2 separate regions of the Homo sapiens genome follow, and region 1 is linked to region 2. Evidence: fine-mapped QTL for protein levels in blood plasma. A gene starts in region 2. The other region holds a variant in brackets. All regions are shown on one strand. Distances are between the middles of the regions. Region 1 has its middle 52 kb from the start of ENPP4. Region 2 holds the start of CLIC5 (chloride intracellular channel 5).

Region 1 (12,305 bases), 61 kb after region 2:
TACCAGTCAGAATGGCTATTATTAAAAAGTCAAAAAATAACAGGTGCTGGCAAAGTTGCAGAGATTAATGACCACTTATACACTGTTGATTAGAGTGTAAGTTAGTTCAGCCTTTGTGGAAAGCAGTGTGGTGGTGATTCCTCAGAGACCTAAAAACAGAATGACCCTTCTACCCAGCAATCTCATTACTGGGTATATACCTAAAGGAATATAAATTGTTCTATCATAAAGACACATGGATGCATAAGTTCTTTGCAGCACTATTCGCAATAGCAAAGACATGGAATCAACCTGAATGCCTATAAATGGTAGACTGGATAAAGAAAATGTGGTACATATATACCATGGAATACTATGCAACCATAAAAGAACGAGATCATGTTCTTTGCAGGAACATGGGTAGAGCTGGAGGCCATTATCCTTAGCAAACTAATGCAGGAACAGAAAACCAAACACCGCATGCTCTCACCCATAAGTGGGAGCTAAATGATGAGAACACACAGACAAATAGAGGGGAACAACACACACTGGGGCCTATCGGAGGGTAGAGGGTGGGAGGAGGGAGAGGATCAGGGAAAATAACTAATGGGAATAGGCTTAATACCTGAGTGATGAAATAATCTGTACAACAAACCCCCATAACACAAATTTACCTATATAACAAATCTGCTAATGTACCCCTGAACTTAAAAGAAAAAAAAAAAAAAAGAAACACATGTGGATCATTCCTGTGGCTAGGTGGGGGGAGGGGGGATCCTAGGGAGATGGATGACTCTAGAGGCAGAGTGACCAGTTAAACAGCTGTGGTCAAGATGACACTGATCAGTAGTGGCCAAGATGAAGAGGAGAGAATATTTTCAGAGGTGAAATCGATTGCACTATTGAAAGTAAAGGAGAAATGCAAATCCAAGTTATTCAGAAGTTTTAGTTTGTACAATTAGTGATGCTGTCCAGGATGATGGGATTAGTAGTGCATGCATTGACATTGAGTTTGTAGTCTCTTGGGGGAAAAATTGCAAAACATTCTTTAGAAAAAAATATGGGCCCTAATTTGGGGATATGTATTTCAGAGTATCACATCACTTTCATTTTCAGAGTTAACATAACTCTCACATGATTATTTGGTGATGCTTCTTTATTATTCTTTCATGAAGGTTTCTTCCCATGGTTCCTAAAGGTGCTAAAAGGCTTAGAAAAGGATTTGTTTCACCCCATAGCTTATTCTACCCCTCCCACATGGGCACACAAGGTGTGAGTACCCAGGCAGGGAAAGTGGAAAGCATCACAGTGATAGTTAACATTTCTGAGAGTTCATGGACCCTCCTGAAATCATCTGGCACAAATATTTTTGCATAGGGTTCTAGAATGTTCCTCAACCTTCTGAAGCATATTCATGAACATATGAATATATTCCCAGGCTAGGAATGCCGATATAAAGAAAAATCCCCTGGATGGACAGCCCAATGTACTAGCTTGCCAGTGATTTGCAGGCAGCCTTAGGAAGGTTGGTTCACTCCTCTGACTTTCCACATTCTTGGCACAGTGCTAAGATTCTGAGAGTCTTTGATTAATGGCATTGATTCACAAAGCAAACCAGTTCATATGGGCACCTAGAAAATAATTTTGAATAAAACTGGGCCTTGATTGTGTTCCCAGCACTCTAATTAAGTGAGTCCAGCCAGGCTATCTCACCCCATGCAAACACACTTTTTAAACTGGAAACTATACTAAAATAACAATCAAAACCTTGTGCTGAATCCATATATCTCCCCCTTACCCTCACAAAATATAAAGTAGCTGGATACACAGATAGATAATATATAAATCAGCATCACACCAGCTAGCTTTTTCCACGAAAATTGGTTTATATGAAGCCACAGATTTAAATACGTGGACACATCCAGATGATCAGTTGAAGAGATACAGTGTTAATGATATATGATATATTTATATCTAAATACTTGAACTAATCTTTGAAACAAAGCATGATGTCTGTTTGGTTCTGTTCTAGCTGGTAGGTGGAAATTCTTTTTAATTTGCTTGCTGTCCTAAACATTGTTTTGCTCATGGTATCCTCCTCAGAACATTCTATTACTCTTGGTTGCTCTCAGGATAAGATCCAAGCCCCTTAGTTTGCAGTGAAAGGCAGCACTCTTAGTTATTCAACTTCGTCATCTGCTCTTCACCTATGTGGGCCTTCTGACCCACTCAACCAAATGGACCTTGCCATACACATGTGAGTGTTGGCTGTGACTCTGCTTCTGCTGAGCCCACTGCCTGGGACGTCCTTTGAGCCACATCTCAACATCCCAATCCAGCTTCATTTATCTCATTTCCTCAAGGGGATTTTATAAGTTTCTCACCTGCAATGATAAAACTTTGTTTGCCTCCAAGGTAAATGCACTAAATGTGTTGCTTATGAAAGCATCCAGGAAGAACCTAGGAAGTAAGGGGATCTGTTCTCATCAGCTCTTGGCCAAGGAAAGAGGTCCAGGCCCACAGATCATAGCAGAAAAGGAAGGAAAGCCTACAAATCAGTAATGTTTTTTTAAAATTGCATATCCCTATCAATATAAAACATTTACCCACAATATATGTATATTTACTCACTTACAAATTATATATGTATATACTACTGTAAGAGTACACTGTGCTCATTGTAAAATATATAAAATATTAACATTTAAGGTGGTTAGATAAAAGTTCAATAGAAATGTTGCTTATTATTTTTCATTCTAATTATAGTATTCTAACACCACATGGATTATGTTGAGTGCCCCATTTTGAATACCATGACCCCTATAACCACATCAGGCACCTCTGCTATGGCAATAATAGTAATTACGACAATTCTGGAGCACTTTACTATGCTGAGCCAAATTATAGTGAATAATTCCTTTAGAATAATTATGGGCTATGAGTCTAAAAAGTATTAACCAGTGTTGTTCTGTTGCCTGACTTCAACAGGACATTTACATTTTCTGTGAATAGTGCCCCCTAAACTTGTTCAGTGCACAACCTGTGCATCCCCGCATGAGGGCCCTATAAGTGTTCTATCAGAGATAGGCTCTGAAGCTGCAGATACTTTCCAAGGGACAGGCTTCACGTGAGCTGAGTGTGGACAGGAGTGTTGTTCTTATGTCAACTTTTCCAACCACAGCCAAATCTAGAAACCATAGTCAGTGTTGAGCAGTATCTTAGAGTGGATAATAGGTGGTGCCATATACACATGTACACACTGACCAGGAGTTGGAGCCATACACCTTGGAATCTAAGACTGTAAGATCTAGGAAAGATTCCTTTCAAGGATGAAGAAATTTGGGTCCAGGGACATTTTATGCAAAAGTATTGACAAAGTTGTGTTAGAATTCCCTGACCACTGCTCTTTCCACAATATTGTATTGCTCATGTTTGAAAAACCCAGTAGGATATTTACTGAATGCTTGCTGCAAAGCACTATGCTTAAAATAAAACGTCATTTCCTGAATGGTTCCAATTTATCACAATAAGTAATAATTTAGGCTCCTATATATTGACATTTACCATATGTCAGATACTATATTAAGCAACTTATAAGCATTATCTTATTTAATCTTTATAATAACCCTATGAGGAAGGTATCATAATGTCCATTTTATCAATGAGGAAATTGAGGCTGAGAGAAGCTCAATAATTTAACAGAAATTAATCTGCTAAAGTAGGTTTCAAATCCATGCAACCAGACTTCAAAACCTGCTCTAGGGGCTGGGCACAGTGGCTTCTGCTTGTAATCCTAGCATTTTGGGAGGCTGAGGTGGGAGAATCACTTGAGCCCAGGAGTTTAAGAACAGCCCTGGCAACGGGGCAAGACCCTGTCTCTACAAACAAACAAACAAACAAACAAAAAATTTAATTAGATGGGTATGGTGGTGCACACCTGTGGTCCCAGCTATTCTAGAGGCTGAGGCGGGAGAATGGCTTGAGCCCAGGAGATTGAGGCTGCAATGAGCTGTGTTTGCACCATTGCCCTCCAGCTTGGGCAACAGAGTGAGACCCTGTCTCAAGACAAAAACGAAAACAAAAACCTGCTCTAAGACATATTCCGCTTCCATAATAAATGACATAAATTATGTATAGGACAAATGGTGTTTATTTGTACCATTTTCTTTTGCAATAACCATTATCAGAATACTTTCTTCCTTTGCATTAAACAAAATACTAGAATGCTTTTTTCTCTCTCCATCTCTCTCACCACCCATCCCCTCTCTTTAACATACATACATACAGACACATTAGCGAATATCAGCTTTCTCATTCGCACATTTTCTGAGAAGGGGTCCATAGCTCACTATAATCTCTAGAGTCAACCATGGCTCTTTATTTTTCTTTTCACCCACATCAAATTCTTCAGCAAAATGCTTGGGCTTTCCCTTCAAAACAATCCCAATGCTCCACTGCTGTCACAGTAACGCACCCTCATCTCTTGCCTGAAGTTTGTCAGTTGCCTCTAAACTGTTTTTCCCTGTTACTGTGTCTACCCGTCCCAGCTACAGCCTGTTATAAAAAGGTGGCCATACTGTTCCTTCCAAAATCGCCCAATGCCTCCCGCTGTCACTCAGAGTGAGTGAGGTTCCCCTAGTGGCCCCTAAGGACTGCTGTGATCATGGTCTGTGCCTCTGCACCTCTCCAGCCTCATCTCCTACCACCTTGCCTCCCTGGCTCACCCACTGCAGCCACACTACTGCCTCGCGCCTACTTACCGTCACTCTCCATCCGCCAAATATGGCCATGTCCGAATTCCCAGAAGCTGCAGATTACTTTATGTGACAAACGGACTTGCAAATGTGATTCAACTAAGAATTTTAAAATGAGGAGATTATCCCGGATTATCCTTGTGGGTCCAATCTAATCGCAAAGTTCCTTACAAGAGAAATGCAAGGAGAGTCGGAAGAAGGCAATGGGATGATGGAAACAGGGCGAGAAGAGGTGATGTGATGTGGGCCATGCGCGAGGAATGAGATCTGCTTCTAGAAGATGGAAAAGAGAAAGAAACAAATTCTCCCCAGAGCCTCCAGAAGGAAAACAGCTCTGCTGACACCTTGAGTTTAGCCCCATAAGACTCATTTCAGACTTCTGACCCCCAGAACTGTAAGAGAATATTTGTATTCTTTTAATCCACTAAGTTTTAGGTAATTTGTTAGAGCAGAAATAAGAAATTAATACACCCATATCCTGTTTTATAGCATTTTCACCATTAGCCCTATTTTATATTTATTTGTTTATTTGTTTATCAGTTGTCTCTCCCACTACAATGCAAAGTGCCTGGGAGACATGGCTGGGCGCGGTGGCTCATGCCTGTAATCCCAGAACTTTGGGAGGCCGAGGTGGGTGGATCACTGAAGTCAAGAAATCGAGACCATCCTGAACAACATAGTGAAAACCCGTCTCTACTAAAAATACAAAAATTACCTGGGCATGGTGGCGCATGCCTGTAATCTAAGCTACTCGGGAGGCAGAGGTTGCAGTGAGCTGCCCTCCAGCCTGGGTGGCAGAGTGAAACTCCGTCCCAAAAAAAAAAAAGTGCATGGGAGACGAGACTTTTTTTTTCTTCATTGGTGTAAACCCAGCACCTGACATAAGATCTGTTGAATGAATAAATGAATGACATATGTTACTTAATTAAATAATTGGTCAACACTCTGAAATGATTAAGCCTCAATAAAATGTTGGTTAAACATATACTTACAAACCTGCATGACATTCTCACCAACATGTCTAGAACAGGTGAAAACATACACAAATGAATACAAGTATCAATGCAGCCCAGTGGTCCACACTAAAACAGCCCAGGAGAAGAACATCCAGAACTGAAAAGCCGTAAGCCCTACTAGGAAGACAGTGAGCCACAGAGCTCCCTCCAGTGTGGGGGACCAACATCCCTTCCACAGAGCAGGGAAGAGGAAAAGGCCTGAGAGGTCACACTCACACCCTACAGTTTCACTCAAGCAGAGAAGGCCCTGTTTTACTCGATTTTATATATTCTACTTCCATTCAACATTGGGTAAGGAACTTCAGTGAAGATAGGGCCGAGTGTGGAGCTAGGAAGCAGGGATTATAACTGCCGCTCTTTTTATTACTGAATATCCTTAAAAAGGAGTTTATGCATAGAAGCTGAGGTCAGTGGGACACTCTATGGCCTTTCAGTTCACACAATTATGCTAAAAAGAATGTAAACTTAAAGAGTTAAATCTAATATTTGCTTTAGGAAATTTTAAGTAATTTAGGAATTACATGTTATAGTCAATCAATTTTCCCTGTTGCTGGTACTGCCAGGAAGTACCAACACTTCTTTTTCCTACTACTTCTGTTTTTGCTCAATACCAGCCATAGGCTAATTTCTAGTGAGATAAACACTTAGCCAAATTTAGAAATAATGTCAGATGGGTCCATGATGATGATCATGGTGATGACCCACTTTGCCTGTCACAGGTTGCATGGATGCTTCTGCCATGAGAAAAAAAAAATACATCTAGTCCTCACTTTAAAAAAGTCTGTGGCCAGGAGCTGTGGCTCACGTCTGTAATCCCAGCACTCTGGGAGGTTGAGGCGGGTGGATCACTTGAGGTTAGGAGTTTGAGACCAGCCTGGCCAACATGGCAAAACCCCATCTCTACTAAAAATTCAAAAATTAGCCAGACCAGGTGGCACATGCCTGTAATCCCAGCTACTCGGGAGGCTGAAGCAGGAGAATCATTTGAATCTGGGAGGTGAAAGTTGCAGTGAGCTGAGATCATGCCATTGCACTCCAGCCTGGGTGACACAGTGAGACTCTGTCTCAAAAAAGAAAAAAAAAAAAGTTTGTTTGCACAGTGTGACAGTGATGATGTGGATATGGAGGTCAGAAAACTGCGTGAATGCACCTGTTCTAACATCACCTCCTCCGTGGAGCTGCTCCAAACTCAGTACACATCTCAGCACTCCTTCTCTGAACACCCACACACTCCACCCACTCCTCTGTTTCATCTCTTACTATATTGTATTAGAATACATTGAGTGCAAGTCTGTCTCTGTCACCATATTATTCATTACTTAAGAGCAAGGGCCTTGTCTTGCACAGCCCTTTCCCCCCAAATGCTCAGCAGAGTACAAGGCAATGTGTGTCTGGTATGTATGTGTGAACCAAGCACTATACTAGATTATTTTTAAAAGGACCTTGTAGTAGAATAAGTGATCCATGATTTACACACAAAACAATTAGAGAAAAGAACAAATTACAAGACAACAAAGGGCAAAATTAGTAAAGTGTGTTTCATCAGAAATGTTACTGGGAACTGGGGAAGAGAGAAATGAGTATGAACTATGGTTTCTGTAGGTTTATAATCATTTTTATTGGCAGGAAAGAGCAGCATTTACAAATATATTTATATAATAAATGTGAAAACATTTCTAAAAATCACATAAATATGAATATTGTGGGGGAGATGTTGGGGAAAAAGGGCCTGCCATCTTGATTAATAAAGATGATTTGTTTAGGTCTGAAACACTTTACATTTTGATAATATTTATAACCATAACTTTATTACTTTATCATCTAATACA[A/G]AGATCACCAAGGTTCTGTTTAGATATCGTAAGCATTAAACATTAACACTGGTAGTGTCTTACTACTACTGAAATCATTTGACTTCATCAAATTTTTAGTTATATTGGTGCCAAAGGGGCAAGCTAGTGACAGAGATAGCCTTTATTGACCACCTATCTGACAAATCTGTGACCTTAGAAGCACAAGAAGGTCTTTCTTTCACAAGCTTTGGTTTCACTTTTAAACATGTTGACAAAGGAAATTTAACCAGACAGAAAAATGTACTTAATGTCAGCCACAATGGCAAGGATTTGGGCAGCAGTTATGGCTCACTTATGTGAACCGTTTTGAAAAATACTTTGCCCATGGTATGTAAAAGTCAGTGATTAAATACGTGCTTTAAATGCACCTTCCAATTCCTCTAATTTTGTGAAGAGCTGAGTACACTCTAATGACTGATTTAGTCCCTCCGACTCCTGAATATGTATTGAGATCCAAGGACCATGGCATTATGAATCTTTCCCTGGTCATTCAGAGCAAAATAAAACACCAGCCATAATATCTGCATGAACAGGGTATGCCTGTCAGAGGCAGACCTTACCTTCACAAAGAGGTAAATCTCAGGGTTCATGTGAGCTCCCTCCTTTTCTTCCAAACCTTCAGCATCAGAATAGCAGGAATACTTGGTGGTAGAGAAGGCCTTACTGTGCTGAATGGTGAAGCTTGAAGGAGAAGGCAGATCTTCCTTCATCACACTCCCATTCTCCTGGAGTTCTGCTGCGCAGAGTTGCTGGTCCTGGGTTGATGAATATAACCCTTCCATTGAGATGCCCCTGTCCTCCTGGGGCTCACCTGGATGAGCCTCCTGGAGTTCAGAGTATATCTCATCAGGCAGGAGGTAGCCTCTGTCTTCTGACTGGACAGAGGCCAAGCTGGTCTCTTCACCCTTAATGGTATAGACTGACACAAAATCATACTCATGGGTATTCAGCTGAGTGGCATATAAATCATTTTCTGGCCTTAAGTACTCATGGACATCATCATAATGGGGACTTTCATTTTCTTCTGGCTGGTCTGGAACCTCATACGTCCTCTCATTTTGGATTGTGTCATAGATGGTGCTGTAGTCTTCGTCATTCATGCTTATTGATCCGAGAGATCTGTTTACAGGGAGACCTGAGTAGATCTGAAATGAATGAAGGGACAGAGGATGCTGCACCACCTTGCAGAGGAATCAACGAGCTCTTAAAAGGCAGCAACTAGCAACTGCTATCAATGACAGGTCTCTAACAATTATTTACTGGAGAGTTTTATAAGCAAACCACAAGTCCATTGGACAGAAGATAAAGCTTACACACTCAGTTAACTCCTTCACTCCTAAAGATATTTTTATTAGACCCTGGGGATTTCCTCATTGGCAGTAACTCCAAGATTCTTTGGGTAAGCCAGAGATTGAATTGAATTATCTTCCTGGTATACACTGAAATTTTGAATATGTAGCCATTTTTCATCAATAGAGCTCCCTCCTCCAACTGCCTCCAAATGTTGACAACATTCAAGAACCCCTGCAATTCAGTGGAGAGCTACAATTCTTCACAATGGCCTCTCATCTATTTACTGCTGAATTTATCACATAGAACAATTATTTGCCTATTGATACCCTGTGATAAATGAATTACATGCCCTGGTTAGGTAATGAATTCCATTTACATTTCTTATCTGGAAACACCACTAGGTGATTAAACAGCAGAAGGAAAAGAAGATAAATGCTCTGGCCTATAGACACATCAGTATAGACCACCCAAATTAGGGACTCAAAGACTTATGGCTTTAATTTTTATTTTTCCCCCTTAAATCTGCATGATCATCACCATCAACAAACATTCACTAAAATCCTATCATATACAGAATGCTGAATTGAGCACAACAAAAGCGTTAGAAGACACATTCTCTGTCTTCAAAGGGGCTTTTAAATGTAGCTGGAGGGCCCAGAAGAGAAAAATAAAACCGAGGAAAAACTATTTAAAGTTTTCTTAGTGCAATAAGCCCAGGTCTGGATAAGCAATAAAAAATTGTATGCACAAGGCTGTTCAGTCAATGCCATCCACAGATGCTGTGAATATGTGTGCCCCCCAAATTCTTTTTAATCTGGTACTCTATCCTGCTAATTCCTGCTTCCCTTTGCCACACCACATACATCTTTCTCCTTGAAGTGACAACCCAGCTAGGTTGTAAAGGGACTTTAATGTCTAGAAATCATGTGAAAACTGTGAAGCAATGCAACTCCTGTTGACAAGCTTCAGAACATTTGATGGGCATCTTGGCAAAACTTCGTTGTACTCTTAGACTTCAATATTGTATCCAGGAATCTTCTACTGGGAATTAGAGCAGCATTTCTAGAATTCTAGCTTAAAGAATGGGTAAGGAAAAAGAGGTCAGAGACTTCAAAGGCTATTGACACTGGACATTTATCTTATTGAAAAGTGACATTCAATGGGTCCAAATACCTTACACATTTTGATAGGTTCTATAATCAGGTGTTTTTAATTGAATGGATTCCAGTTCAAATCTTCCTCCTAGTTTTACAGCTGGTGAAAACCTAAGAGATCATTCAAACATTTTATTTTACATTTGAAAAAAATTTAAACCTAGAAAGTGGAAGTGAATGGTCCAAGTTTACACAAAAACTTAATGGCGGAGCTGACTTTAGCTGTGGTTTTTGAACCTCCAGCTCAGTAATATTTCTGCTACTAAATCTCTTCCTTAACTCAGTATTTTCCAATCTTTTTTTCATGATCACACACTGTCCCTTCCCTGCTCCCAAAGGAGCCTTTTCAGATATTTCTCTATGAAATAAAAATGCTGCAGATATACTACATATCTGTTTGCATATTGTATATACATATGCATTTTGTACATTAAAAGAGTAACTTTTTTTTCTTTTTGCTTCCCAAGAACCAATTTTCACCCCTTGGGGGGTGACACTACTCCTTTCCACAATGCAACTCATGCTTTTACTACTAATGCAGTGTGTAGCTCATAATCTAACACTGGATTCTGTTTCATTCTGCATTATTACAAAGAATAGTATACAGCATGTGCATATGGATACAGCATGTTGTCAAGTCCTCACCACAATGACCCAGTGAGGCAGGGCTGAGGTTGGCTAAGCTTAGGGCCCAAGATCAAACAGATATTTCAAATTAGGTCCCTCTCTTATCCCATTTTAGAACACATCTATCATGATCTACAGTTACAGGTTGTAATATGAAACAAGTCCTTCCGTTAAAATGTAAGTCAGGTCATATTGCTCTGTGCTCAAACCCCTACAATGGCTCCCCATTTATCTTAGTGAAAGCCAAAGTCCTTACAACGGCCCACATGGCCCTGCATAATCCACAACCACTCTCCTATACCTGTTTTTTCACCCCTTGCCGACCCAGCTCCAGACAATTGAGCCTTGTTTCTATACCTGGAACACTCCTGGATATTCCCATATTAGACCTTTTACATTGGCTATTCTCTCTAAGAGAACACACATTCCCTGGATATTTGCATAGTCAATTCCCCCAACTCCTATAAATTTTTGCTTTAATGTCCCCTTCTCAATGAGACTACACTGACTGTCCTGTTTAAAATGACAACCCATCCCAAATCCTATCTTAATCCCTGTTCCATTACTAAAAACCCTTACCCTACTTTCCCCCCCTTTTCCATAATATTTATCACCCTCTAATAAGATATATACATAACTTATTTTTTATGTCTAGAGGTTTTATTTTCTGTCTTATCCTACTAGAATGTAAACCCTATATGGCGGCGAATCTCTGTCTACTTTTTCATCATTATCTCAAGTACCTAGAACAGTGTCTGGTACATATTATATATATGTTGAATGAATACGTATTTGTTGAATGAATTTTTAAGATTGCTGACATATTTATCCTTCATTGGGTACTTACGTTTCACGAGAACAAGGCCCATGCCTATTTTTTCACGTTGCTATATAGCTAAAGTCTAGCAGATATCTGATATGTAATAGCTGCCTATTAAATATTTGTTGGATAAATAAATTAAAGGAAGAAGATGTATCTAGCATTCATGTCCTTTTACTCCTGGCTCAGTTTTCTGAGCCATTAATTTTTTGAAGGGTTTTTTCTGTCTCTATTTCCTTCAGTTCTGCTCTGATTTTAGTTATTTCTTGCCTTCTGCTAACTTTTGAATGTGTTTGCTCTTGCTTTTCTAGTTCTTTTAATTGTGATGTTAGGGTGCCAATTTTGGATCTTTCCTGCTTTCTCTTGTGGGCATTTAGTGGTATAAATTTCCCTCTACACACTGCTTTGAATGTGTCCCAGAGATTCTGGTATGTTGTGTCTTTGTTCTTGTTGGTTTCAAAGAACATCTTTATTTCTGCCTTCATTTCATTATGTACCCAGTAGTCATTCAGGAGCAGGTTGTTCAGTTTCCATGTAGTTGAGCAGTTTTGAGTGAGTTTCTTAATCCTGAGTTCTATTTTGATTGCACTGTGGTCTGAGAGACAGTTTGTTATAATTTCTGTTCTTTTACTTTTGCCGAGGAGAGCTTTACTTCCAACTATGTGGTCAATTTTGGAATAGGTGTGGTGTGGTGCTGAAAAAAATGTATATTCTGTTGATTTGGGGTGGAGAGTTCTGTAGATGTCTATTAGGTCTGCTTGGTGCAGAGCTGAGTTCAATTCCTGGGTATCCTTGTTAACTTTCTGTCTCGT
Region 2 (12,305 bases):
GGCCAACACACTGGTGAACCCGAGCCTGACACCAAAGTTTCACTCTTCCACCACATCTCTTGCCACCACTAACATGGGGCCAGCAGCTGACAACTCAAAGGGAACCAAGAATGAGAAGTTTTTGACCTAACTGACTGTCTAAATTGACAGACGCTTTGTCTTGCATGGAGGGGGCCAATAAATGCCCAAAGAGACAACACAAGTCATCAGGGATGCAGGAGCTCTCAACACTGGCAGTGGACGTCAGCTTCTGCAGACCCAGTCCTCATTCCCACCACCCTGCCATGGCACTTCAAATATGCATCATACAACTCTTGACGCTAGCTCTCCAGGGATGTGTTACCAGGAGAAGAAGCACTCACTGCCATAGCAGGGCAGGCAAATTTGTGTATTGCGTTATTGACTACAGATCAAAACCTGAAGATAGTGGGAAAGAAAAACACAGTAGCTTAATATGATGAAGGGAACTTTAAAAACCTAGTGAGCTCATGCTTAGGCAAGCGGCCCAAGGTGACCAGGCAGTCACAGTAGCTCAGGGACATAGAGGCGACACCACAAGATCTGATCCTATCTGTTCTGGAAGTCAGATGACCACACCACGAGTCACCACAACTTGTATTGCACCCTGCACCACTCAGAAACTTTTGGGCCACTCAATAAATGAAAGACTAGTCGTTTCCATCAGACAATTAGCAGAACTCTGTTTTACTTCCCCCATGCTGAATTGATGATTCTTTGACTAGACCAACCCTATACACGATTGTTCTGGAGTCCTGTGGATAGGGCTTAATAGTTCGTCAGCATCTGTTAACTGGGCAGTGATTGGATGCAAGCTTTCTATCAACAACACTTCTGACCGTGATGCCCTGAGGCTGTTAGAAGTTCTGGACATTTAATCAGCATTAGCAAGGCCACCTATGTCAGCGGTGGCAGAAGCTGCCTGCTATTGGACCTGCCTCTGATTATGACTCAGTGGCTCTCCACCAGGGCTGCACGCTGGAGCCACCTGAGAGTGGATATGAAAATATTGTTTCAGGGTCCCACCCACAGACACACTGATGTAATCGGCTTGGGGAGCAAACTGCCATCAGAAGTTTTAAAATCTCTCTCAATGGATTGAATAGGTAGTGAAGGCTGAGAACCACTGGTTTCTGTTGAAACCTCAGTTCCTGGCTGAAGAGACACTTGCGGCGAGCTTGTCTGTATCATTAGTCACTTCTGGGGTCCAGGGGTGAGACTGGGAGTGGAGGAAGCAATGCAAATGGGTGGAATGCCTTGATCTAACCTACACAGCACATCCTGTGTTTGTCTTTTCAAATTGCTTTCTGTTTTGCTTTTACTTCCTTGCTCTATTTCTTTCAATAAACCACACTCACTGCCATTACCTCTAGCCTGTTGTCCTCCTCTTAGGATCAAAGTCCAAGCTACATATTATCTCATTTACTCTCAAAATATCCCTGCAAGTGAGGAAGGAGCCAGGCCTTTGTTCCCCAAGGCAAATCAGGGACGTGCAGGTCCAGAAAGGTTCAGTCTGCCATGGGACTCATAATATTCAAGTCAGTGTGTTTACAGCAATTTTCAATTTACAAAGTGTTTTCACCTATGTTCTCCCATGGAATCCTCACAGCAAATCTACAATGACAGTATTTTCATAACCAGAATGACCACACATCCTTATTTGCTCCCAAACTATCCTGGGTTATACCTGTGGTTCCAGCCTAATTATTGATATCATTCCCTTTCACTCTCAAAAGTGTCTAGATTTGGACAATAAATTATATGGTCTCCTTATTTATAACCATGCTCTTGTTTTAAGAGGGCCAGTGAGGCTCCTGAAAGTTAAATAATTTGTTCAGGATCATTTAGCTAATTAGAGGCAGAGGCAAGACTTGAACTCAGGTACTGCATCTCCAAATCCCTGCGCCATCCACAGGTATTATGGGACATTAGAATCAGAGTTGACATGATCTAACATTTCTTATTGTAGAAACTAAAAATGTGGGGAAATAATCTCTTAAAAGTCACTGTCAGAATGTTCCCCGAAAGGGAAAGACTCGGAGTACATAGCAGAAATGGGTTAGTCTCCTTGGAAGCATTCTATGAACACATTAGAATGGATTAATAACATAAATAAATGTCACCATGATGGCACTTGAAAGCCTAACTTGGCAAAATAAGGTATCAGGCCTGACATATAGGTATTTGGAAAAGAGCAAGAAATTCAAAGTCTAAACTGCTAGATTTGAGGACTGGATCTGAATGCTATCTGCCATCTACCTTTGGGCATTTTACCTACTTTCTGTGAGCACATGTATTGTTCAACAGAACAGGAGGAATTATCATTCTTAGTTCCCTGGGCTGTTACAAGAAGAGCAAACTGCAGCTCATCAAGTGCTCTGACAGCGAGTCTCATAAGGTACCTGTGAATCCAGTTTATTTGTTTTCTTTATCTTTCACATAAGTGAATCAAGCCTTATAAAGTTGCTGATGATCAAATGAGATAAGGTATTTGAACATACTTATTATGTCCTAATATGCTGCAATCTTTCCTTCTTCTTATCATTATCATTATCAGCAGTAGTAGTAACAGATAATGACTATCAATTGACGTGGGAGACAATTACAATTACATGTCATTGTGAAACTCATTAGGTGACTGTGATTTAGAGTGGTACACCCAGTGGAAACAAGAGGTTGGGAGGTCCTTCCAAGGGGGTGTTGAAAATGACCAAGTCATGACTATAACTGGGTGGGACCCATCCTTCTTGGAAGTCTTCATAGAAACCAACCCACCCTGCCCTGCAGAAAGAGCTTCAGTTACCTGACACCATCAACAAGAAGGCCTTTCTTTTTATGGGGAATCATGTACCTCAGAGAAACTCCAAACTTTGGAAAAGTGTGATTCTGTCAACAAGGATATTGCTTCCCTCAAATGACACAGTTCAAGTAAGGCCTGGGCAGCATCTTTATTTCACAATATTTCTAGCCTTTACTTGTCCCATTTACTTGTAAATGAGAACTGCTAACCTGAAGCTCAAAAAGATGGGGTTGAGGGAGGAGTCAAAACAACTTTCATACCTGATGTTTTGATCTCCCCATCAATCTGGTTTTTGAGCTAGCCATGAAGGCCTGCCTGGCTCTCATTGATTTCCTTTAGGGAAAAAACAAATGACAACACAGTCATTTTAGAATTATTTGGGGAACGCTGCAAATTGTGCAGTAAGGTTTTTATATAAATGGAGAGACTCTCCAACACTGCCAACAAGAAAATTCCAAAGGTGCAGGTAGAATCGGTCTCCACACCTAGGAGTGGGGCAAAGGGCTCCTTTGGTTCTAAAGAACCTATTTGTGTTTCAAATATCTTTCAGAAACTTGACACCTTGAAACTACCACTCTCAAGGAATCTGAGTAAGTCCTAGAATCGCTTTCTTCAAGGAGAGCAGCAAGACTCATCGCTTTGTTAAAGCTCTCCCTATTCACCCCTAGGGCCCAGGCCTGGATGCTGGGGTTCAGAACACCCCCTTGCTGCCCTAAGGTCCAACACTACCCAGCATCAGACGAGAAATGACCTCCTTTATTACCTGGGTCTGCCAAAGGACCTGGAAATCCAGCCTGGGGTGGGGGTGGGGGGAGTCCCAGAAACCAAAGGAGCACACAGGGGCCACAGTGGGAAGAGAACAGGCTGAAGAAAGCAAGTGTCACTAAATGTCAGGTGTAAGCTTGAAAAATAAACACAAAGAATGTAAAACCCAGCAGAAGAAATTTAACAAACCTTTGTGGTAGGCTGGGACAACGGAGACAGATCACGTACCAAGTGTAAAGTAAGTCACATTTTAAGAGTCAGAAAGTACCAAAGACCACAGATTGTTATCAAGGTTTATGTAGATCTCATACTTTTTGCAAACATCTATTTAATTAGCTTGTAGAGAAGGATCTTTTGGGCAAAATAACATTTTCCCAATTCCAGGGAATATTTATGCCTTTTAAATTCTGCCAGGAGGCCCCTGACAGGCACCAGTGACTCTTCCCTTCTCAGCGATCTGCATATTTCTAGGGAAACTTTGCACTGAGAGAGTTTTCCCCCTTTGTGAAAGGTCTTGGCGCCCAGGCAGTCCCCGACTTCCCCTCCCCCAAGTCCTGGCGACTGTTTCTGCTCAGCCCTGGAGGCTACTCTCCCGCAGCCTCAGGTTTCCCTACTTCTGCAGCGTCGGCACCAAGGGCTGATCAAATGTTTCTTTCTCCTTACACCGGCGGACCGGGAAACGCCGCCGCAGCCTCGCCTCCATCCTTCCTCCTACAGGTTGCAAATAAAGTACAGCAGCTCTGACATTAGGCAGTTTCTGTCCAAGGAGCAAGGTGACTTCATTTAATTTGCACTGTGCTCCTTCATCCCTGTCTGCATCAGGTTGAACGGGAGGCTCTCCCTACTACCAAACGCCTAACATTTCCTTGATACTGCCTTGAAAAATCATGATTATGACAAAAATAATAACGTCGGAGAATGGAGTGCTTGTTTTCTGCTTTGCAAGTCACCAAGCAAGAAAACACTTTTGTCTCCTTGGCTTTTATTTTAGGATCTCTGAGCGAAAGAGAGAAAGAGAATTTTAAGAAATGTCATTTTCGCTTTGCCAAAGATCATTGTGTCAATAACGTTTCTCTCCCATTCCTCCCCCTCCTCCCGTTTTAAAGGAAAGGTTCACGGGTCCAGCCAGGTTTCTGCCGCATCCCGACACCTGGAGACGTCTTTCAGGACCAGCCTGAATCGCGTCCGGGCTGGGCTCTGGACTCGGACTCGCAGCGGTGACAGCGGAGGCGGGGACGGGGGTGGACAAACTGCGGATCAACTCTCCGAGAAGACGGCCACCTGCCGGAACCTGCCTTCCTCCATTCCGCCCAGGAGCCTCGCAGCGGGGCGCTGGCCTGCGGAAAGGCCACGGGGGAGCACAGGGCTCCGCGCCGCCCTCCTGGGAGGGTCCGGAGTCCAGCGCACCCCGAGCCCTGGTGGGTGAGCCCGGCGGGAGGCGCGGCAGGTGCGGCGGGAGACTGGACCCCGACCTACCTTCACAAAGAGCTCGATCTCGGGGTCCCTGTCGTCCCCGTTAGCTGTCGCCGAGTCTGTCATGCCGTTGGCGCCCGGGGCTACCGTCCCGGGCCGGGGAGGCGCCACCTCTGCAGCACCTGGGCCAGCACTCTGCGCTCCTGCCGCTGCCCAGCGGGGCTCCTCTTCAGGGCGGTGTTTAATTTTTCACAAAACCATCTATTCTCCAGCCCGAGCAGCGGGGTCTGAGAGATCAGTGTCCCAGATGCTCACATGAAAAGGAGCGAAGCCGGGAGGAGGCGGGGGGCCACGGGGAAAGCCGGGTTAAGGGAATGACAACAGGTCGTGGGAGCAACAAGTGCCGGGCTGCCCGGAGGTGTCACAGGATCCGCGACTGTCAGCGATCCCGCCGCCGCCAACGCGCCCAAAATAGCCGGCGGCTGCAGGGCGGGGTCAGCCGGGCGGGGACGCGGCGGGGACACCCCGGCAGCTCGGGCCTGGGCCGGGCCACGGCCCCCCGCCCCAAGACCCCGCAGGGCAGGAGGCGGAGACAGAGCTGGTCCTGGCAAAGCCACCAAGGCCAAGAGGATGTCCTGGGGGCGGATAATGAGGCGAAGGCAGAAAGAGTCGAGGAGAAGGGGAAGGGGAAGAGGAAGGGGAAAGGGGAAGGGGAAGAGGAAGGGGAAAGGGGAAGGGGAAGAGGAAGGGGAAAGGGGAAGGGGAAGAGGAAGGGGAAAGGGGAAGGGGAAGAGGAAGGGGAAAGGGGAAGGGGAAGGAAGAGAGGAGATGGCTCTCAAGTCTTCTGTTTCTTTAATAAAGCGTCAGCTCCTCCGAGTTACTCCACTACCAGCCTTACCCACTTGGAAAGCCCTTCCTGTCTTAGTGATGCTCAGAACCCCCACCAAAAGGGGCATTTGCCATCCTTGGGCTAAGCAAAAGGAGAGTAGGGTGCTGGGGACGGGCAGGGCAGGGCAGGGGTGGCTCCTGGGGCAGAGGGGTGAGTCAACCCGGTCAGGTGCGGCTTCCATGCCTTTCAGCCTTCTGGGTTTGTTTATTTTTCTTCTCCCTTCTTTCATTTTCTTTCTATTTCTTCCTTTATTTTCTGATCTTACTTCATTCCCGTTCTCTTCTGGTTGTTTTAGTGAAGTAGGATGCAAACACAGAAAAGATGCACATATCTTAGGTGTATGCCTCAATGAATTTTCACAATCCAACCCACCCATGTAACGAGCGCCAGATGAAGAATAAAATGTTAGCCACAGCCCTAGAAGCTCCTCCTGCTCTCTCCTCTCCACATCTTTTCTCCCGTCTCCACTGTCCCAGGGTAACCATTATTCTGGCTTGTAGCAGCATAGGATCTTTTTGCCTGGAATGTTGGTGTCTGGCTTCTTTCGCTCATTACTATGTTTGTGAGATTCATCCATTGTGCTATGTGTAGTTGTGTATCATCCATTTTCACCGACACACTTACTTATTCATTCTTCTGTCAATGGACATTTGTGCAGGTGACTATCATGACTACTCTGTCACGAACATTCTCTCTATCAAACATCTTTTGGTTGGATTCACAGACACTTTTCTCTTGGATGTATACTTAGGAGTGGACTTGCTGAGTTGTAGTGTATAAGAATGCTCTCCTTGTGTAAACACTGCCATAGGTTTTCTAAAGTGGTTGCACCAACAGACATTCCCACCCTTCAGTTCTTTAAAAAATAATTATTGAATGTTTTGCACCAGAATCTGGTGGAATTCTCTTTGTCTTCTTTGCCTTCTCTTTAATTAATCCTGTTTGTGCTATGTCCTTCCTTACTAAAAACATGTATTTGTTTAATAGCTTTATTAAAAAATTTATCGCTTAATAAAAAAATAAGTAATAATACTTATTATGTGCTAGGCAAAAATGTTGAGCACTTTACATGTGTGAACTTGTATAATATTTACAAATAGTATAATGATCCCAATTTTACAAGTGGGGAAACTGAGACATGAAGTATTTAAGTAACTTATCCCTAGTCATTCAGCTAGGAAATGGTGAAGTCAGGATTTAAACCCAGACAGACTTGAGCCTGTCCTCTCAACTGCTCTACAAACTGCTTTTCTTAGTGCACACTATGGAAGTGCACACTTTGAGGAAACAAAGGCATGGTTTTAACGGTCTTAACAGAGATCAAAATCCCTTTCAGAATAATAGTTACATGAAATGAAAACTAAGGCTGCCACATGAATTGGGAAGATGAAGGAGCTATACAAGCTGTCACGTAAAGATACTATTTACCATGGTTGGGGTGAGGAGAGGAAAAGGCTTCATGGAGCAAAAGGCACTTTAGCTGAACCTTCCTGAAAGGTCAGGCATCTGATAGGCAAAGAAAAGGGAAAGATGTCCTCACTACCCTTTATGGCAGGCTGTGTCCCCACAGACTCTCAGTGCAAATTCCTCCTTCCTGAAGAAAGCAGTCACCAAGCCCAACGTGCAACTCTCTTGGTACATTATAACTTAATCAAGGTGATGTTTAATTGCTTTCCTCCTGCTTGGCTTCAGGCTTACATCACCAAAGCCTTTAGAGAAACAGTCACCTTCACAGCTGTACATTCTGCACCAATGACTACATACTTTAGGGAAGGACCAAGGTTACAGAGGGAGACTGGTGCCTTCGCTGCATGATGCACAGACTCAGAACATCCCTGCACTGAAGTGTAGGCAATATTCTTAATGGCAATGTGGCAGTAGCAAATAAAATTATATGCATAAAATGTCTTCGAGGGTTTTGGTTTTTTGTTTTTTGTTTTAATGAAAAATGTGTTACACGTATTTTCGATCATTTCCTTGGCTATGATCTAAACAATGTGTGGTATGACTTCTCTTTCCTTAATCCCAAACCTATCAGAGTTAACTTTCATTTTATCTTCTCCAAATATCTACTGCTATTGTAAATTTGGACAGATCTCTTTCAATAACATTTTATAGGAAATATCTCCCATTTGGACATCCCTGCAGATAACTTATAGTTTTGATATTATAAAGCTTCATGCTGCAAAAAAAATAATTCTTCTTTGGTCATAAACTATTTCTGTGCATATTTTCCATTTTCAATTTCATATTATGCCTTAGCTCAAGATAAAAGGACTTTACTTTGTACCCTTTAATGTTAAAGAATAATTGGTTAGAGTCAATTCTAGCTTTGTCTGGAGAAAAACACTATATGTCTAATTCCAGCCCATAGTTTCACAAATGTGGTGCAAGTTTTGAATAAATTTTTACCAGGAAAGTACTTTAAAAACACATTTAGTGCTCACTTTGGCAGCACATATTCTAAAATGGAAACCATACAGAGAAGATTGGCATGGCTCCAATGAAAGGGTGACATGCAAATCTGTGTGACATTCATATTTTTGTATGACTGTTGAAAGTGAAAACTATAACATATCTGATAGCATTTTTAATATATTTAGATTCAATAATATGACCACTGCAGCATAAAGGGTAAAGGGCAAGGAATTTATACAGTTGTAAGGTTTATATACTTTACTTGATATAGTAAACTCTAAGTAGCCTGAGAAAAACTAGGTATGTGTATTGTAATCCCTAAAGAAACAGCTATTTGAGTTATAAAACAAAAGTATAGTAAAAAAAAAAAAGCCAACAGATAAGCTAAAATGGAATGACAAGAAATATTCAAATAATCTAAAAGGCAGAAAAGAGGAAGAGAATAGAAAACTGATAATAAAATGGTACACCTAAATATAACCATATTAATACTTAAGCTAAATATAAATGGTCTAAGCACATAAATTAAAAGCTGAAGATTGTTGGATTGCATAAAAAAGCAACAAGAAGACCCAACTATATGCTGTTACAGAATTCACTTCAAACACAATGTTATTGATAAATTAAAAGTAAGAGGATGGAAAAGCCCCTGCCATGCAAACACTAATCAAAAGAAAGCTGGGCCGGGCGCGGTGGCTCACGCCTGTAATCCCAGCACTTTGGGAGGCCGAGGCGGATGGATCATGAGGTCAGGAGATCGAGACCATCCTGGCTAACAAGGTGAAACCCCGTCTCTACTAAAAATACAAAAAATTAGCCGGGCGCGGTGGCGGGCGCCTGTAGTCCCAGCTACTGGGGAGGCTGAGGCAGGAGAATGGCGTGAACCCGGGAAGCGGAGCTTGCAGTGAGCCGAGATTGCGCCACTGCAGTCCGCAGTCCGGCCTGGGCGACAGAGCGAGACTCCGTCTCAAAAAAAAAAAAAAAAAAAAGAAAGCTAACCTCTAAATTAATATAATTATTAATAATATATAAACATATATTAATGTAAGTCTATTAGACAAAATAGACTTCAGAAAAAGGAAATTATCAGGAATAGAGACATTACATAATAATAATAATAATAACAGAGCCAGCTCACCAAGAAGATAGAACAACCTTAAATGCATATATACTTAATAACAGAGCTTCAATATTGATGAAACAATAGCTGATGGAACTGAAAGGAGAAAGAGAAATACAGAATTATAGTTAGAGACTTCAGTTCTCCTCTTTTGGTAATTTATAGCACAAGTAGACAAAAAATCCATAAGAATATAGAATATAGAAGACCTAAACAACACTATCAATAACCTTGACCTTATGAACATTTGTGGAATATCCCACCCAAACAACAACATAATATACACTATTGTCAGATATATATGGAACATTTACCAAAAGAGATCACATTCTGGGTCACAGAACAAACTTCATTACGTTAAAATAATGAAATTATACAAAGTATGTTCTCTGACCATAATGGAATCAATTAAATTAATATCCAGAAAGATATCCAAAACACTTCCAGTTATTTGGAAATTAAGCAACACACTTTAAGAAATTCATTGATCAACAAGGAAGCCTCAAGGATTATTAAAAAATATTTTGAACTGAATTCAAATGAACATACAACATATCAAAATTTGTGAGATGCAGCTAAAGCAACGCTTAGTAGAAATTTATACATAAAACACTTATTTTGGAAAATAATAAAGTTCTGAAATTTATAATCTAGGCTTCCATTTTATGGAACTAGAAAAAAGAACAGCCAGCTAAAACCAAAGCAAGCAAAAATAATAAAATAATAAATATAAAAACAGAAATTAATGAAATCGAAGAAAAAATAAAACAATAGAGAAAATCAATAATACTAGAGGCTGGTTTTTATCAAAGATCAATAAAGTTGATAAATTTCTCACTAGATTTACCAAAAAACTAGAGAGAGAAGATATATTATCAATGTTAGATACAAAAGATGGGATATCAACTATGAACTTCACAGATACAAAAAGATAAGGGAGTACTACAAACAACTCTCTGAACATAAATTAGACCATTTAGATAAAATGGATAAAAGACACAGACTAACAAAATTCACTCAATGAGAAGTAGATAACCTGAATAGTCCTATATTTATTAAACATATTAAATTCATAGTTGAAAGCCCTCCAAGAAAAGAAAACTACAGCCCCATATACCTTCATTAATGAATTCTACTAAACATTTTAGAAAGAATAACACCAATTCCATGCAATCTCTTCCAGTAATGAGAAGAGGAGGAAGTGAAGGACTTGTATCCAGGATTTGTAAAGAATTTTTACAACTCAAAAAAAAAAAAAAAAAAAAACCCAGCTAAAAAAATAGGCAAAATATCTGAGCAGACACTTTAACCTAGAAGACTTACCAATGGCAAACACATGAAAATATGCTCAACGTTCTTCAGTAGAGCAATGCAAATAAAGAGATACCACAATATACCTATTAGAATGGTTACAATGTGCATTCATGATAATCCCATGTGTGAGCAAGAATACAGAGCAACTGGAACTCTCATACATTGATGGTAGGAATGCAAAATTGTACAGTCATTCTGGACAGCAGTTTGGCATTTTCATATAAAGTCAAATGTACACTTACTATATGGCCCACTTACCATCTTCTGGGTATTATCCAAGAGAAATGAAAACTTATGTTTACATAAAACCTTGGTACATAAATTTTTTTTTACAAAAGTATTATTCATAATTGCCCCAAACTGGAAACATCCCCAAATGTTCCTCAATGGGTAAATGAATTAAAAAAAGTGATAACATTTATGCAACGGTATATCACTTAGCGATAAAAAGAATGAGCTATTAATTGGTGCACAACACAGGTAAATCTCAAATGCCCCATATTAAGTGAAAAAGAAAAGCAGTCTCAAAAGGTTACTTACTGTATGGTTTCATTTACATGACATTCTGGAAAATAAAAAAATTATAGGGATGGAGAGAAGATCAGTGGCTGCCAGGGACTGGGATAGATGAGGGCTTGATTACAAAGGGGCAGCTTTCAGCTGATAGAACTACTTTGCATCCTGTTTGTGTCATTGGTTACACACATTTCTGTATGTGTTAAAATATACAGAACTACACACCAAAAAGGTGAATTTTCTGTATGCAAATTTAAAAAATGATCAAAATGCTTAAATAATTTCCAAAAAGGTAAAGCCATCAGGTTCTATTGCCATACCCACTTTCCACACAGTCTTTGCTTCAAATCTGTAACATCAGACCTCATCTTACCATTAATTTCAGAAATGTAAAAGAGATTTCTATTTTATGAGATGCAGTGCTTCTAATTAGGCTGATCAACAAAATAAAACAAACTTTCATTGAAATAACAAAACAAAATAAACATATTTAGACAGTGTGTTTGTGTGTGTGTGTTATGAAATGACATGTACTGTAAAATAATGATGATGCTTATGGGGAGATTTTTCAGAAAATGCTTGCCCTACCCACTACCGGAGTGCAATCACATTATTAGTCACAAGTTCCAGCTTTTATGTACCTAGCAGTACTCAGTTGAGCCCACTCACTATACCCAGAGTAGCAGCTATTTCCATGGGAATTAAACAACTTACATTCTCTGCAGGAGATCTCCCAGACAATCTCAAGGACTTGAGGTTTAAGCTGGAAGATTTTGATGACAGCTTCAGAAAGACATTATGCCCTTGTGGGAGGACCAACTGGGTGTAGACGAAGGGAGGTGAATCCTAGAGGGATCACACCTGCATGAGGTCACAGATTGGGCTATGAGGGGGATTGAGGTGAGTTGTTAGTTCTATTTCTTTATAACCTAAGGTGTCCTTGGGCATGGCCAACATGATCAATGATCTTGGCTCTCACTGCAGTCTGTCTATTGGTGCTTAGCAAAGGCAGAGGCCTGGGAGTGAGCTGGACTGAAGTCAAGAGTCCTTGT

The links. A credible set is the group of variants that fine-mapping cannot tell apart. PIP is the posterior inclusion probability: the model's chance that the variant is causal. The UK Biobank Pharma Proteomics Project read protein levels with antibody pairs (Olink). The fine-mapping took linkage between variants from a reference panel, not from the people measured, so its PIPs are less certain.
Region 1: its variant is the best candidate, but not a certain one, in a credible set for the plasma level of the CLIC5 protein (UK Biobank, PIP 0.74).

What each region holds. Positions count from the first base shown.
Region 1 is chr6:46,071,544-46,083,848 of GRCh38, forward strand. It overlaps a transcript of CLIC5 not described here. Among named protein-coding and RNA genes, the nearest start is that of ENPP4, 52 kb to the right of the region's middle. The variant A/G (reference allele first, on the strand shown) is at 7,579.
Region 2 is chr6:46,010,421-46,022,725 of GRCh38, forward strand. CLIC5 (chloride intracellular channel 5) reads right to left here and starts at 5,440. Exons shown (of 6, transcript NM_016929.5): 1 at 5,060-5,440. The coding sequence starts at 5,122. It also overlaps the pseudogene RNU6-754P. RefSeq lists enhancers at 1,075-1,124, 4,553-5,397, 5,398-6,242 and a silencer at 5,091-5,140.